Regions from separate parts of the Homo sapiens genome. Here region 2 is linked to region 1. Evidence: fine-mapped expression QTL. Tissue or cell type: blood mononuclear cells. Region 1 holds a variant in brackets; the other region holds the start of a gene. All regions are shown on one strand. Distances are from middle to middle. Region 1 has its middle 34 kb from the start of MAGEE1. Region 2 holds the start of MAGEE1 (MAGE family member E1).

What was found.
Region 2: it holds the start of MAGEE1, and the variant in region 1 is fine-mapped to the expression of MAGEE1 in blood mononuclear cells (TOPMed, PIP above 0.99).

Annotation. Positions count from the first base shown.
Region 1 is chrX:76,389,915-76,398,265 of GRCh38, forward strand. No RefSeq gene overlaps it. Among named protein-coding and RNA genes, the nearest start is that of MAGEE1, 34 kb to the right of the region's middle. The variant C/A (reference allele first, on the strand shown) is at 4,163.
Region 2 is chrX:76,422,802-76,431,152 of GRCh38, forward strand. MAGEE1 (MAGE family member E1) reads left to right here and starts at 4,909. Exons shown (of 1, transcript NM_020932.3): 1 at 4,909-8,351. The coding sequence starts at 5,130. The coding sequence ends at 8,003. RefSeq lists enhancers at 4,957-5,166, 5,637-5,766.

The sequences.
Region 1 (8,351 bases):
TTGTAGAGGTCTTTCACCTCCTTGATTAGGTATATTTCTAAGTACTTTTTTTTTTTTTTTTTGCAACTGTTGTAAAGCGGTTGAGTTCTTGTTTTGATTCACAGCTTGGTCGTTGGTGGCGTATAGCAGACTTGTGTACATTGATTTTTTATCCTGAAATTTTTATTTATCAGTTCTAGGAGCTTTTTAAATGTCTCTTTAGGGTTTTCTAGTTATATGATCATATCATCAGTGAGCAGCGATATTTTGACTTCTGTATTTATTTGGATGTCCTTCATTTCTTTCTCTTGTTTGATTATTCTGGCTAGGACTTCCAGTACTACGTTGAATAGAAGTGGTGAGAGTGGGCATACTTGCATTGTTCCAGTTCTCAGGGGGAATGCTTCCAACATTTCTCTGTTCGATATAATATTGGCTATGGGTTTGTCATAGATGGCTTTTATTACATTGAGATATGTCCCTTTTATGCCGATTTTTCTGAGAGTTTTAATCATAAATGGATGCTGGATTTTGTCAAATGCTTTTTCAGTATCTATAGACATAATAATGTTATTTTTGTTTTTAATTTTGTTTATGTGGTGTATCACATTTATTGACATGAGTATGCTAAACCATCCCTGCATCCCTGGTATTAGACCCACTTGATCATGATGTATTATCTTTTTGATATGCTGTTGGATTTGGTGAGCTGGTATTTTGTTGAGGACTTCTGCATTGATGTTTCTCATGGATAGTGGTCTGTCATTTTATTTTTTATGGCCTTTCCTGGTTTTGATATTAGGGTGACACTGACTTCGTAGAATAATATAGATAGGATTCCTTCTTTCTCTATCTTTTGGAATAGTTTCTATAAGACTGGTACCAATTCTTCTTTGAATGTCTGATAGAACTCAGCTGTAAATCCATCTGGTCTTGGATTTTGTTGTTTACAATTTTTTTTATTACTGTTTCAGTCCTGCTACTTGTTATTGGTCTGTTCAGAGATTTTATTTCTGCCTGACTTAATCAAGTAGGGTTGCATATTTCCAGGAATTTATTCATCTTTTTTAGGTTTTCTAGTTTGTGTGCATAAATGTGTTCCTAGTAGCTTTGGGTGATTTTTTCTATTTCTGTGGTATCATTTGTAATATCTTCCATTTTATTTCTAATGGAGCTTATTTGGATCTCCTCTCTTCTTTTCTTGGTTAATCTCACTAATGGCGTATCAATTTTGTTTATCTTTTGAAGGAACCCCCTCTTTCTTTCGTTTATCTATGGTAATATCTTTTTTGTTTCAATTTCATGTAGTCCTGATCTTTGTTATTTATTTTCTTCTGCTGGGTTTCAGTTTGGTTTTTCTTGTTTCTCTAGTTCCTTGAGGTGTGAGCTTAGATTGTCTATTTGTACTCTTTGAGACTATTTGATATAGGCATTTAATCCAATGAACTTTTCTCTTAACATTGCTTTTGCTGTATTCTGGAGATTTTGATAAGTTGTGTAACTGTTCTTGTGCATTTCAGAGAATTCTTAAATTTCCATTTTGATTTTATTGTTGATCAAAATATCATTAAAAGGCAGATTGTTTGATTTCTGTATATTTGTATAGCTTTGAGGGTTCCTTTTGAAGTTAATTTCCAGTTTCATTCTACTGTGGTCTGAGGATACTTGATATAATTCTGATTTTCTTTTTTCCTTTTTTTTATTATGCTTTAGGTTCTAGGGTACAGGTGCACAATATGCAGGTAAGTTACATATGTATACTTGTGCCATGTTGGTGTGCTGCACCCATTAACTCGTCATTTAACATTAGGTATGTCTCCTAATGCTATCCCTCCCTCTCCTCCTACCTCACAACAGGCCCCGGTGTGTGATATTCCCCTTCCTGTGTCCATGCGTCCTCATTGTTCAGTTCCCACATATGAGTGAGAACATGCGGTGTTTGGTTTTCTGTCCTTACGATAGTTTGCTGAAAATGATGGTTTCCAGTTTCATCCATGTCACTACAAAGGACATGAACTCATCATTTTTTATGGCTGCATAGTATTCCATGGTGTATATGTGCCACATTTTCTTAATCCAGTCTGCCATTGTTGGATATTTGGATTCATTCCAAGTCTTTGCTATTGTGAATGGTGCTGCAATAAACATAGGTGTGCATGTGTCTTTATAGCAGCATGTTTTATAATCTTTGGGTATATACCCAGTAATGGGATGGCTGGGTCAAATGGTATTTCAAGTTCTAGATCCCTGAGGAATCGCCACACTGACTTCAACAATGGTTGAACTAGTTTACAGTCTCACCAGCAGTGTAAAAGTGTTCCTATTTCTCCACATCCTCTCCAGCACCTGTTGTTTCCTGACTTTTTAATGACCACCTTTCTAACTGGTGTGAGATGGTATCTCACTGTGGTTTTGATTTGCATTTGTCTGACGGCCAGTGATGATGAGCAGTTTTTCATGTGTCCTTTGGCTGCATAAATGTCTTCTTTTGAGAAGTGTCTGTTCATATCCTTTGCCCACTTTTTGATAGGGTTGTTTCTTTCTTGTAAATTTGTTTCAGTTCATTGTAGATTCTGGATATTAGCCCTTTCTCAGATGAGGAGATTGCAAAAATTTTCTCCCATTCTGTAGGTTGCCTGTTCACTCTGATGGTAGTTGCTTTTGCTGTGCAGAAGCTCTTTAGTTTGATTAGATCCCACTTATCAATTTTGGCTTTTGTTGCCATTGCTTTTGGTGTTTTAGACATGAAGTCCTTTCCCATGCCTATGTCCTGAATGGTATTGCTTAGGTTTTCTTCTAGGGTTTTTATGGTTTTAGGTCTGACATTTAAGTCTTTAATCCGTCTTGAATTCATTTTTTATAAGGTGTAAGGAAGGGATCCAGTTTCAGCTTTCTACATATGGCTAGCCAGTTTTCCCAGCACCATTTATTAAATAGGGAATCCTTTCCCCATTGCTTGTTTTTGTCAGGTTTGTCAAAGTCAGATGGTTGTAGATATGCAGCATTATTTCTGAGGGCTCTTTCCTGTTCCATTGGTCTATATCTCTGTTTTGGTTCCAGTACCATGTTGTTTTGGTTACTGCAGCCCTGTAGTATAGCTTGAAGTCAGGTAGCGTGATGCCTCCAGCTTTGTTCTTTTGGCTTAGGATTGACTTGGCAATGCGGGCTCTTTTATGGTTCCATATGAACTTTAGTTTTTTCCAATTCTGTGAAGAAAGTAATTGGTAGCTTGATGGGGATGGCACTGAATCTACAAATTACCTTGATCAGTATGGCCATTTTCATGATATTGATTTCTTCTTACCCAAGAGCATGGAATGGTCTTCCATTTGTTTGTATCCTCTTTGATTTCATTGAGCAGTGGTTCGTAGTTCTCCTTGAAGAGGTCCTTCACAGCCCTTGTAAGTTGGATTCTTAGGTATTTTATTCTCTTTGAAGCAATTGTGAATGGGAGTTCACTCATGATTTGGCTCTCTGTCTGTTATTGGTGTATAAGAATGCTTGTGATTTTTGCACATTGATTTTGTATCCTGAGACTTTGCTGAAGTTGCCTATCAGCTTAAGGAGACTTTGGGTTGAGACGATGGAGTTTGCTAGATATACAATCATGTCATCTGCAAACAGGGACAATTTGACTTCCTCTTTTCCTAATTGAATACATTTTATTTCCTTCTCCTGCCTGACTGCCCTGGCCAGAACATCCAACACTATGTTGAATAGGAGTGGTGAGAGAGGGCATCCCTGTCTTGTGCCAGTTTTCAAAGGGAATGCTTCCAGTTTTTGTCCATTCAGTACGATATTGGCTGTGGGTTTGTCATAGATAGCTCTTATTATTTTGAGATACATCCCATCAATACCTTATTTATTGAGAGTTTTTAGCACGAAGGGTTGTTGAATTTTCTCAAAGGCATTTTCTGCATCTATTGAAATAATTATGTGGTTTTGTCATTGGTTCTGTTTATATGCTGGATTACATTTATTGATTTGCGTATGTTGAACCAGCCTTGCATCCCAGGGATGAAACCCACTTGATCATGGTGGATAAGCTTTTTGATGTGCTGCTGGATTCGGTTTGCCAGTATTTTATTGAGGATTTTTGCATCAATGTTCATCAGGGATATTGGTCTAAAATTCTCTTTTTTTGTTGTGTCTCTTCCAGGCTTTGGTATCAGGATGATGCTGG[C/A]CTCATAAAATGAGTTAGGGAGGATTCCCTCTTTTTCTATTGATGGTAATAATTTCAGAAGGAATGGTACCAGCTCCTCCTTGTACCTCTGGTAGAATTCGGCTGTGAATCCATCTGGTCCTGGACTGTTTTTGGGTGGTAAGCTATTAACTATTCCCTCAATTTCAGAGCCTGTTATTGTTGTATTCAGAGATTCAACTTCTTCCTGGTTTAGTCTTGGGAGAGTGTGTGTCGAGGAATTTATCCATTTCTTGTGGATTTTCTAGTTTATTTGCATAGAGGTGTTTATAGTATTCTCTGATGGTAGTTTGTATTTCTGTGGGATTGTTGGTGATATCCCCCTTATCATTTTTTATTGTGTCTATTTGATTCTTCTCTCTTTTCTTCTTTATTAGTCTTGCTAGTGATCTATCAATGTTGTTGATCTTTTCAAAAAACCATCTCCTGGATTCATTGATTTTTTGAAGGGTTTTTGTGTCTCTATTTCCTTCACTTCTGCTCTGGTATCGGTTGTTCCTTTCCATGTTTAGTGCTTCCTTCAAGAGCTCTTTTAGGGCAGGCCTGGTGGTGACAAAATCTCTCAGCATTTGCTTGTCTGTAAAGTATTTGATTTCTCCTTCACTTATGAAGCTTAGTTTGGCTGGATATGAAATTCTGGGTTGAAAATTCTTTTCTTTAAGAATGTTGAATATTGGCCCCCACTCTCTTCTGGCTTGTAGAGTTTCTGCCGAGAGATCCACTGTTAGTCTCATGGACTTCCCTTTGTGGGTAACCCGACTTTTCTCTCTGGCTGCCCTTAACATTTTTTCCTTCATTTCAACTTTGGTGAATCTGACAATTATGTGTCTCAGAGTTGCTCCTCTCGAGGAATATCTTTGTGGCATTCTCTGTATTTCCTGAATCTGAATGTTGGCCTGCCTTGTTAGATTGAGGAAGTTCTCCTGGGTAATATCCTGCAGAGTGTTTTCCAAGTTGGTTCCTTTCTCCCCGTCACTTTCAGGTACACCAGTCAGATGTAGATTTGGTCTTTTCACGTAGTCCCATATTTCTTGGAGGCTTTGTTCATTTCTTTTTATTCTTTTTTCTCTAAAGTACTCTTCTCACTTTATTTCATTCATTTCATCTTCCATCACTGATACCCTTTCTTCCAGTTGATCAAATCATCTACTGAGGCTTGTGCATGCATTATGTAGTTCTCATGCCATGGTTTTCAGCTCCATCAGGTCCCTTAAGGACGTCTCTGCATTGGTTATTCTAGTTAGCCATTCGTCTAATTTTTTTTCAAGGTTTTTAACTTCTTTGCCATGGATTTGTACTTCCTCCTTTAGCTTGGAGTAGTCTGATCATCTGAAGCTTTCTTCTCTCAACTCGTCACAGTCATTCTCCATCCAGCTTTGTTCCATTGCTGGTGAGGAGCTGCATTCCTTTGGAGGAGGAGAGGTGTTCCGATTTTTAGAGTTTCCAGTTTTTGTGCTCTGTTTTTTCCCCATCTTTGTGGTTTTATCTACCTTTGGTCTTTGATGATGGTGACGTACAGATGGGGTTTTGGTGTGGATGTCCTTTCTGTTTGTTAGTTTTTCTTCTAACAGTCAGAACCCTCAGCTGCAGGTGTGTTGGAGTTTGCCAGAGGTCCACTCTAGACCCTGTTTGCCTGGGTATCACCAGCGGAGGCTGCAGAACAGCTGATATTGGTGAACAGCAAATGTTCCTGCCTGATCATTCCTCTGGAAGTTTTGTCTCAGAGGAGTACCTAGCCGTGTGAGGTGTCAGTCTGCCCCTACTGGGGGATGCCTCCCAGTTAGGCTATTCAGGGGTCAGGGACCCACTTGAAGAGGCAGTCTGTCCGTTCTCAGATCTCCAGCTGTGTCCTGGGAGAACCACTACTCTCTTCACTGCTGTCAGACAGGGACATTTAAGTCTGCAGAGGTTTCTGCTGCCTTTTATTTGGCTATGCCCTACCCCCAGAGGTGGAGTCTACAGAGGCAGGCAAGCCTCCTTGAGCTGCAGTGTGCTCCACCCAGTTCGAGCTTCTCAGCTATTTTGTTTACCTATTGAAGCCTTGCAATGGCAGGTGCCCCTCCCCCAGCCTTGCTGCCGCCTTCCAGTTTGATCTCAGACTGCTGTGCTAGCAATGATTGAGGTTCTGTGGGTGTAGGACCCTCCCAGCCATGCACGGGATATAATCTCCTGGTGTGCCATTTGCTAAGACCATTGGAAAAGCACAGTATTAGGGTGGGAGTGACCCGATTTTCCAGGTGCCATCTCTCACCCCTTTCTTTGACTAGGAAAGGGAATTTCCTGACCCCTTGTGCTTCCCGGGTAAGGTGATAACTCGCCCTGCTTCGGCTCATGCTCAGTGCACTGCACCCACTGTCCTGTACCCACTTTCCGACACTCCCCAGTGAGATGAACCCGGTACCTCAGTTGGAAATGCAGAAATCACCTGTCTTCTGCATCGCTCATGCTGGGAGCTGTAGACTGGAGCTGTTCCTATTTGGCCACCTTGGCTCCACACTCCAGGTTGTTTCAATTGCCATTGTTTTAAAACCCATGTCAGGCTGAGCACGGTAACTCATACCTGTAATCCCACTGCTTTGGGAGACCAAGGTGGGAGGATTGCTGGAATGTCAGGAGTTTGAGACAAGCCGGAGCAACATAGTGATACCTAATCTCTATAAAAGTATTAAAAATTAGCTGGGCATGGTGACATAACATGCACCTGTAATTTCAGCTACTCAGGAGGCTGAAGTGGGAGGATTGCCTGAGCCCTGGAGTTCAAGGTTACTCTGATCTGTGGTAATGTAACTGCACTCCAGCCTGGGCAACAGAGAGAAACTGTGTCTCTTTAAAAAAAAAAAACCCATTGTCTTTCTGTGTAACCCATTTAAATAAATAAAAGCCCATGTCTTTCTGTGTGAACTGTTTCCAGGAAGATAGGGTAGGCCAAAAAGTTAAGCATTGTTTTCTTTGAGATACTGTCTTACTCTGTCACCTAGACTAGAGTACAGTAGCACCATCATGGCCCACTGCAATCTCTGCCTCCCATACTCAAGCAATCCTCCAACCTCAACCACTGGAATAGCTTGCACTACAGGTACACACCACCATGCCTGGCTGGTTTATTTTTGTAGAGGCAAGGTTTTGCCCTGCTGCCCAGGATGGTCTTGAACCCCTTAGTTCAAGATATCCTCTGTTCTCAGCCTCCCAAAGTGCTAGGATTACAGGCATGAGCCACCATGCCTGGCCAGCAATGTTATTTTGTAATGCCTACATTTGCACTTGCTTTACAGTGAAGTGGAAGCTTTGTTTTTACTGTGTAACTTGTGTTATTCCCAAAGAATATAAAAGCTGTTTTGTTAACCACCCAATAACATCAGCAGAGGTTGGTGTTTTGTATTGGTAATCCAATAAAAAGCCTGTAGAAGTATACATAATTGCTAAGGCATATTCAATGGTTCCTGCCACTTGCAGAGAGAGAACCAATGAAATTGTTTTCCAAGTTTTGATTGACCCTTCTATTTAAATTTATCTTTCCATAAGGTAGGCCTAGTGTCCAGATTATTCGAGTGTAGTACAGTTCTTGGTAGCTTTATGTGAATGTCTCTTTGCTGTAGCCACTCCTCTTAATCCATTTTTAAACCCCATCATATCCAAATGCCCTGATGTCTCTTGTGCCCACTGGTAGAAGCATTGAAGGGTTCATATCAAAGTTCTAGGAACACCCTGTCCTTCAAGATATTTACCTGCTTTGGTGGTTTTGTTAGTTTATTGGCTTTTTGCACTTTATACCACCTCCTCTGTGTCTTGTCTGTTGTGAGTCAAGGTATGGTACACAAATATGGGAAGAGTGGGAGCCAATGGTGAAATTTATTCCCATCTCTCTACCCCCAATGTCTTGGCCCTGTTTTTAAAGCCCTGATTTTGCCAAAGTCCTGACCAAATAATTAGCCCATTAGCTGCAAAGCGGGAGTTGATCAAAACATAAACCTTAGGAGAATGTTTCTCAAGGGCATACTCTGTGTCTAGTAGTATCGTGAACAGCTTAGCCTATTAAGCACTTTGTTCTATCCCCTGCATTGAATTTGGAATGTTTTAATAAGGGTCACAGGTTGCATCTGTTCATTTTCTGGCTCCCTTATATCCTGTGCTTCCTCCATTGCTTTTCTTTTTTGACAGTGCTGACCATCCT
Region 2 (8,351 bases), 33 kb after region 1:
CCATTTTGGGCTGATTGTTATAGAAATTATTGTTTATTTCCTTGAATTGTTACTAAAGATAAAAATTTGACATCCTACAAGTCTGACTTATAGCAGGCTAATGCTCTGGGCTGCTTACTGTAGTTAAGTGGGTTGGTTTCCTAGGCAAGTTGTTGAAGGTTGCGGGTCACTGTTCTACTTTTTATATATGGTCCAACCATTGTCCATTTGTACATTCAATCTTTCAGTATACATCCCACCATACAGGAGATAGAAACAATAATGAGAAGCCTGATATCAAAGCTAACCTGGGAAGAAACTTATTGGTGACATCACATTGCCACCTCTAAAGAGGTCACCCTTGAACTTATTCGAGCTATACAAATGGACTCCCTAGAAAAGTTTCCCTGGAATAAAAATGATGGAACAGGTGGCCTCCCACTAAAATTAGAACAACATCATCATAAACAGGGAAATAAATAGGCCAAATTTATAATATGATTGATGGTTATTTTTGAAATAATTTGCCCTACCTTTGAGGATCACATATGTGAGTACTCCACAGTTCAGAATCAAATTTGGTGCATGTATAAATTAATAACTTTTTAAAAACTGCCAAGAGATACTGTGAAGCTTACTCTAGACCCATGCAAACATTCTGATGCTATTTACTACTGGCAATCACCCGGAAACTCAAGCAAGGCACACCAATCCAAATAAGGAGGAACATTCATTTGCCTAAACCTGCAGATATCTTAAGTCACAGAAACACATATAATGACAAATTTAACTGCATGTTGGACTTGCTTCTGCCAATCTGATTCTAGCATTATGGATAGACAGGAACATGTAGCAAAGGGGTTATAATGTCACTCTACTGACTGAACAATTGAACAAATTAAAATCTGCTCCTTTTTCTAATCGATTCCCCTGGCTTTCCTCCATTACGTGGGCAGATTGGCTATGAAAGGGTTTTGAAATCCTTGTTTGTACCCTTATAGGATTCTGTCTCCTTTATTTCTGGCAAGAAACTTAGGCACTGCAAAATAACATACAATTTTAATTATAAGACAACATTGGGCCAGGGGATGGACTGTTATATGCATGAGCCAAAGATAGTCTCTATATATTGATTCTGCCAGTACCAAACTCAATTTTTTACACATCAATTGTTTTAAATATAGACCAATAAGTAGATTGTTAGCCATTTAGAGGCTGCCTTCTTTGCATGTCCCTGTGAAACTACAATCATCTGTTAGCTATAGATAGGATAAACTCCAGGAGATAAAAACCCTAACCTACTGCTGCCCTTCAGAGATCTCTGACCCAGCAACTCCCTGTCTTGCTGCTGAGAGACATCGCTACATGTATAAGCCATCTCTTTGATTCCCCTCCCTCTCTCCAGTTAGCTTGTCCTCTCATTTTCTAGGTTGTGACCTCCCACCAGCCTCTGGAAGATCTCAGACTTTGATTAACCCCATGCCCTTGCAAACCTGTCAAAGGGTTGACCAAATGAAACTCGTATGCTTATACACTGTTGGTGGGAATGTAAATTAGTAATAATAAACACTATATATAGTTCAACCACTATAGAAAGCAGTTTGGAGATTTCTCAAAGAACATAAAACACAACTACCATTCAATTCAGTAATCACATTATCGGGCATATATCCAGAAGAAAAGAAATCATTCAACCAAAAAGACACATACACTCATAGTTGTTTGCAGCCTTATTAACAAGAGCAATGACATGGAGTCAACTTAGGTGTCTATCACTGATATTTGCTAAAGAAAATGTGGTACATATATACCATGGAATACAACACAGCCATAAAAACTAATGAAATAATGTCCTTTGCAGCAACATGGATGCAGCTGAAGGCCATTATCCTAAGCGAATTTACACAGAAACAGAAAACCAAATACCATATGTTCTCATTTATAAGTTGGAGCTAAAGATTGGGTACTCATCAACATAAAGGTGGCAAAAACAGACACTGGAGGACTATTAGAAGGGGGAAGAAGAAAGGGGGTCATGGGTTGAAAAACTGTTGAGTATTATGCTCACTACCTGGGTGATGAGATCATCTGTTTTCCAAACCTCAGCATCATGCAATATACCCATATAACAAACCTGTGTATGTATCCCCAGAATCTAAAATAAAAGTTGAAATTCTAAAACAGACAAACAACAAAAACTCATTGTGTGTTACTGAAAACGTGTGGTAGTATATATTTTTCTTGATCAGTCCCCAAATCTCTTGCACTCACTTGTTTCCTATATTTTAATTCTACATATAAATTACACAAAACATATTATTATTATTGTTTTACATTGTCAATATGTCTGTTTACCCACATATTTATCCTTTCTATTACTGTTCGCTTCTTGCATCTCTTCAGTTTCAGAGGAGAACCTTTCAGTATTTCCTCAGTGTGGGTGTACTGGTGATCAATTTACTCAGCACTGATTTCTGAACATGTATTTATTTTGCCTTCATTTTTGATGTACTATTTCAGTAAGTTCAGAATTCCAAATTATCAGCTTACAAATCATTAAATTCCTTAAGTGACAAACTTGTATACAATGTAAGACTCACCTCTTTGCACTTCCCTTTTTTCTGAGATCATTACTCTTGAAGTCCTCATTGCCTTTATAGGTTTCTGATGCTATATTGGTAGCCTTTGTTGCCATAAAAGGGTTTCTTTACCTAAATTTCTGGGGTTTTTTTTCCGCAGGGCTGCTGCAATCAACTATACATTATTAGAAATGGAATTCTTTGATATCATTATAATGACTTACTGGTATTCCATTTTTAGTACCATAATTTCTTCAAATACTCTTTAGTTATTTAACATTCATTTAGTTTTCAGCTCTGTTATACTAGAACAAATTATATAATAAAAGTTATTTTAGCTAAATATTTGCACATATATCTTATTATTTCTTTAGAATATATTTCTAGAGGTAAAAATTTTTAGTTTATAGGTTTGAACAACTTCAGGGTCTTTAAAAATCACTGTACCCTAGGTTAGGAATATCTGTTGCTAAAGCTTAGAAATATCTTAGGTTTTTTTGTGCCTCCCATTCTGAATAGGCCCCAGGCATAAAAACTGCATTGGACTTCACAGAACCGAAACTGGTTATTCATATAAGGGATTGCTTCTCCAATTGGAGACAGAGATGGTGACACATTGTGACTGTAGCCAGTTATTTTCCCTTTCCTAAAGACGTATTAAAAAAAAGTATTGGAACCAACCCAAATGCCCATCAATGACAGACTGGATAAAGAAAACATGGCACATATACACCATGGAATACTATGCAATAAAAAAGGATGAGTTCATGTCCTTTGCAGGGGCATGGATGAAGCTGGAAACCATCATTCTCAGAAAATTAACACAAGAACAGGAAACCAAACACCACACGTTCTCACTCATAAGTGGGAATTGAACAATTACAACACATGGACACAGGGAGGGGAACATCACACACCAGGGCCTGTCAAGAGGTGGGGAGATAGGGGAGGGATAGCATTAGGAGAAATACCTAATGTAGATGATGGGTTGATGGGTGCAGCAAACCACCATGGCACGTGTATACCTAGGTAACAAATCTGCACATTCTGCACATGTACCCCAAAACTTAAAGTATAAAAAAAAAGAAAAAAAGACAAAAGTATACTCCCAGATTTTTGAGAAGATATAAAGAAAGACAACATATAATAAATGTTTGCAGCAAGATATAAACATATCAATAAAGGGTCAATAGTGGTAAGCTGAATTGTAGTGGTTGTGTGAGTGTCAGAAAGTTAGTGTTTTCCCTCTATCTCTCTTCCTCTCTCTCTCTCCCCTACTTCTAAAAACAGCCTGCCCGTCCTCTTCAGTGTTTTCTTTCTTACTCACTGCTGCCGTGCTACTCTCAGTTGGAATGATTTTCTCATCCTTGTCCTTTTGGTAAATATCTACCCACTCATCTTTTTAAACATCTCCTCTTTTATGAAGCCTTTTCTGCATCTACAGGTAGAACTGACCCTGCCATCCCCTGCATTCTTTACAAACTTCTAGAAAATTTAGCTTTACTTTTTCTCTGACTCCCATTTTTACATCGGGTGCTCCTTGATGACAAAGAGATTAACTGTAACTTCGGGATAGATGACCAGTGTTTGTTGAGTGAATGAATAAAGGGATCAGGGTTGGATCTGCTCAAAAGTGCTAGAGTAATAGAGCAAAACAGAGCAGGTAACACATCCCTTAACACTCGGTATCTCAACTGACTTTCACAAAAGCTCTATTAAATGAGCAGGTGATTGTGGAGTGAAAGAATTAAACAAATTTTCAAGAGTTTTAGTGGCTTTCCCACTAAAGCCTGGGTGACTGGGAAAGTTTGGGCTGGGAATGTTGGGCTTTTCAAGCGTGTTCGAAGCTCCCTAATTGGTACTAAATTTCAGGCATTCAGACCCTCTAGGAAAGAGTTCTTTCTAGCTCACAACATTAGGGGAGGAGTTAGACACATAAATGGAGAAAGTGATAGAAGAGACATGGTCAGGGATGGGGGTTCTACCCTTCCAGAGACAATGCACATTTTCTTTGAAACAGCTTCGGGAAAACTGCAAATCTCAATGATATTTACCAATTTTGAGAATCTATTAAGTGCCTGGCACTCTGTGTAGAAGCCCTCCAATCGTACCCTAAATCTGAGAAGTATTTATTATTATTTCCATTTTTACTCCCTAATGCATCTACTCTAAGCTCCTTGCTTCACCCTACCAAAGTTTCCCTTCTGCTAGTGCTCTCCTTTGGTGCAGAACCACCGCATCCACTTTCTCAGGCCCAGGGGAGGGGCGGGGCGGGGCGATTTCGCCTTGCCGCAGAGCCAGTCTGCGCCTGCGCGGACTGCGGCAGAGGGCGGGGTGTGAGAAGCAGAGTACAGTGAGACTAGCATTCACTGCTGGCCAGTGCCTGCCTTTTTCACCACCTCTAATTTCAGCTTCAGCAGTTGCTTGGAACTTTGGTTCTGGCAGCAGCAGCAACATCATTACCGCTAGCGGCAGTTTTGTGCCGAGGCACCTACACACCTCCCGTCCTCTCTGCCAGATCGCGGGCCTGTCGGTGTCTGCTCCTACACGCCAACGCCGGTGGGCAGGACCATGTCTCTGGTAAGCCAGAATTCGCGCCGCCGCCGCCGCCGCGTTGCAAAGGCTACTGCGCACAACAGCAGCTGGGGCGAAATGCAGGCCCCTAATGCCCCCGGTCTCCCCGCTGATGTGCCAGGCTCAGACGTCCCCCAGGGTCCCAGCGATTCCCAGATCCTCCAGGGCCTCTGCGCCTCTGAGGGCCCAAGCACCTCCGTTCTGCCCACCTCCGCTGAGGGCCCAAGCACCTTTGTGCCGCCCACCATCTCTGAGGCCTCAAGCGCCTCCGGGCAGCCCACCATCTCTGAGGGACCTGGCACCTCCGTGCTGCCCACCCCCAGTGAGGGCCTAAGCACCTCCGGGCCTCCCACCATCTCTAAGGGGCTGTGCACCTCTGTGACGCTTGCCGCCTCTGAGGGCCGGAACACCTCCAGGCCGCCCACTTCCTCTGAGGAACCTAGCACCTCCGTGCCGCCCACCGCCTCTGAGGTACCGAGCACCTCCCTGCCGCCCACCCCTGGTGAGGGAACGAGCACCTCCGTGCCGCCCACAGCCTATGAGGGACCAAGCACCTCCGTGGTGCCCACCCCTGATGAGGGACCAAGCACCTCCGTGCTGCCTACACCTGGTGAGGGACCAGGCACCTCCGTGCCGCTCGCCGCCACTGAGGGCCTGAGCACCTCCGTGCAGGCCACTCCTGATGAGGGACCGAGCACCTCCGTGCCGCCCACCGCCACTGAGGGCCTAAGCACCCCCGTGCCACCCACCCGTGATGAGGGACCGAGCACCTCCGTGCCGGCCACTCCTGGTGAGGGACCGAGCACCTCCGTGCTGCCCGCCGCCTCTGACGGACAAAGCATCTCCTTGGTGCCCACCCGCGGTAAGGGATCAAGCACCTCCGTGCCCCCCACCGCCACCGAGGGCCTGAGCACCTCCGTGCAGCCCACTGCTGGTGAGGGATCGAGCACCTCCGTGCCGCCCACCCCTGGTGGGGGACTGAGCACCTCCGTGCCGCCCACCGCCACTGAGGAGTTGAGCACCTCCGTGCCGCCCACTCCCGGTGAGGGACCAAGCACTTCCGTACTGCCAATCCCCGGTGAGGGACTGAGCACCTCTGTGCCGCCCACCGCCTCTGATGGATCGGACACCTCCGTGCCGCCCACTCCTGGTGAGGGCGCAAGCACCTTAGTGCAGCCCACCGCCCCTGACGGACCGGGAAGCTCCGTGCTGCCTAACCCTGGTGAGGGCCCGAGCACATTGTTTAGCTCTAGTGCTTCTGTGGACCGGAACCCCTCCAAGTGTTCCCTTGTTTTGCCAAGCCCTAGGGTAACCAAGGCCTCCGTGGACTCAGATTCTGAGGGTCCTAAGGGTGCAGAAGGCCCTATAGAATTCGAGGTCCTGAGAGACTGTGAGAGCCCCAACTCCATTAGTATTATGGGCCTCAATACTTCCCGGGTTGCAATTACCCTGAAGCCCCAAGACCCTATGGAACAGAACGTAGCTGAGCTGTTGCAGTTCCTGCTGGTGAAGGATCAGAGCAAGTACCCTATCCGGGAGTCTGAAATGCGGGAATATATTGTTAAAGAATATCGCAACCAGTTTCCTGAGATACTCAGGCGAGCAGCAGCCCACCTGGAGTGCATTTTTAGGTTTGAATTGAGAGAACTTGACCCTGAGGCACACACCTACATTCTGTTAAACAAACTGGGACCTGTGCCCTTTGAAGGGTTAGAAGAGAGCCCAAATGGGCCAAAGATGGGCCTCCTGATGATGATTCTAGGCCAAATATTCCTGAATGGCAACCAAGCCAAGGAGGCTGAGATTTGGGAAATGCTCTGGAGGATGGGGGTGCAGCGGGAAAGGAGGCTTTCCATTTTTGGGAACCCAAAGAGACTTCTGTCTGTGGAGTTTGTATGGCAGCGTTACTTAGACTACAGGCCAGTAACTGACTGTAAACCAGTGGAGTATGAGTTTTTCTGGGGCCCAAGATCCCACCTAGAAACCACCAAGATGAAAATTCTGAAGTTCATGGCGAAAATATATAACAAAGATCCTATGGATTGGCCAGAGAAATACAACGAAGCTCTGGAAGAAGATGCTGCCAGAGCCTTTGCTGAGGGTTGGCAGGCTCTCCCTCACTTTAGGAGGCCCTTTTTTGAGGAAGCTGCTGCAGAGGTACCATCCCCTGATTCAGAGGTTTCCAGCTATTCCTCAAAATATGCCCCACATTCATGGCCTGAGTCAAGATTGGAGAGCAAGGCAAGGAAGCTGGTGCAGTTATTTCTGCTTATGGATTCAACTAAGCTGCCTATACCAAAGAAAGGAATTCTGTACTACATTGGCCGAGAGTGCAGCAAAGTGTTCCCTGACCTCCTGAATCGTGCTGCCCGCACCCTGAACCATGTCTATGGGACAGAACTAGTGGTACTTGATCCCAGGAATCACTCCTATACTCTGTACAACCGAAGGGAGATGGAAGAAACTGAGGAGATCGTAGACAGTCCAAACAGGCCTGGCAACAACTTTTTGATGCAGGTCCTAAGCTTCATCTTTATTATGGGCAACCATGCCAGGGAGTCTGCAGTCTGGGCCTTTCTGCGGGGCTTAGGGGTTCAAGCTGGGAGAAAGCATGTGATTACCTGCAGATACTTGAGTCAGCGCTATATAGACAGTTTACGGGTTCCTGACAGTGATCCAGTGCAATATGAGTTTGTATGGGGTCCTAGAGCCCGTTTGGAAACCTCTAAGATGAAAGCCTTGCGATATGTGGCCAGAATCCACAGAAAGGAACCACAGGACTGGCCACAGCAGTACAGGGAGGCAATGGAAGATGAGGCCAATAGAGCTGATGTTGGGCACAGGCAAATCTTTGTTCACAACTTCAGGTAGAGGAATGCATGGCAGTCAGAGGGGCCTTGCAAGGAGGGGCCTTTGAGCCTCAGTTCTCATGTATTGGGGGGTGGGGGTGGGTACATATTGTATTTGGTATTTGTGTTCCAGTTATATTTATGTCTTTTCATATTTAGTTCTGGTGTGGTGTCTGGAAATGTTTCAACTGTTTTAATATATTGTCTGATTGGGTAAATGTGATTGACCACTTGCTGTCTCTGTTGTATTTTGGTATGAGTTTTGATAGCTCTATAAAATGTTTTGGAAATCTTTCCATCTTGTTGCATTATCTAGAAAAGAATATAGCATATAGCTATAGATATAGGCTTTTCCTTGAAAGCTTGAAAA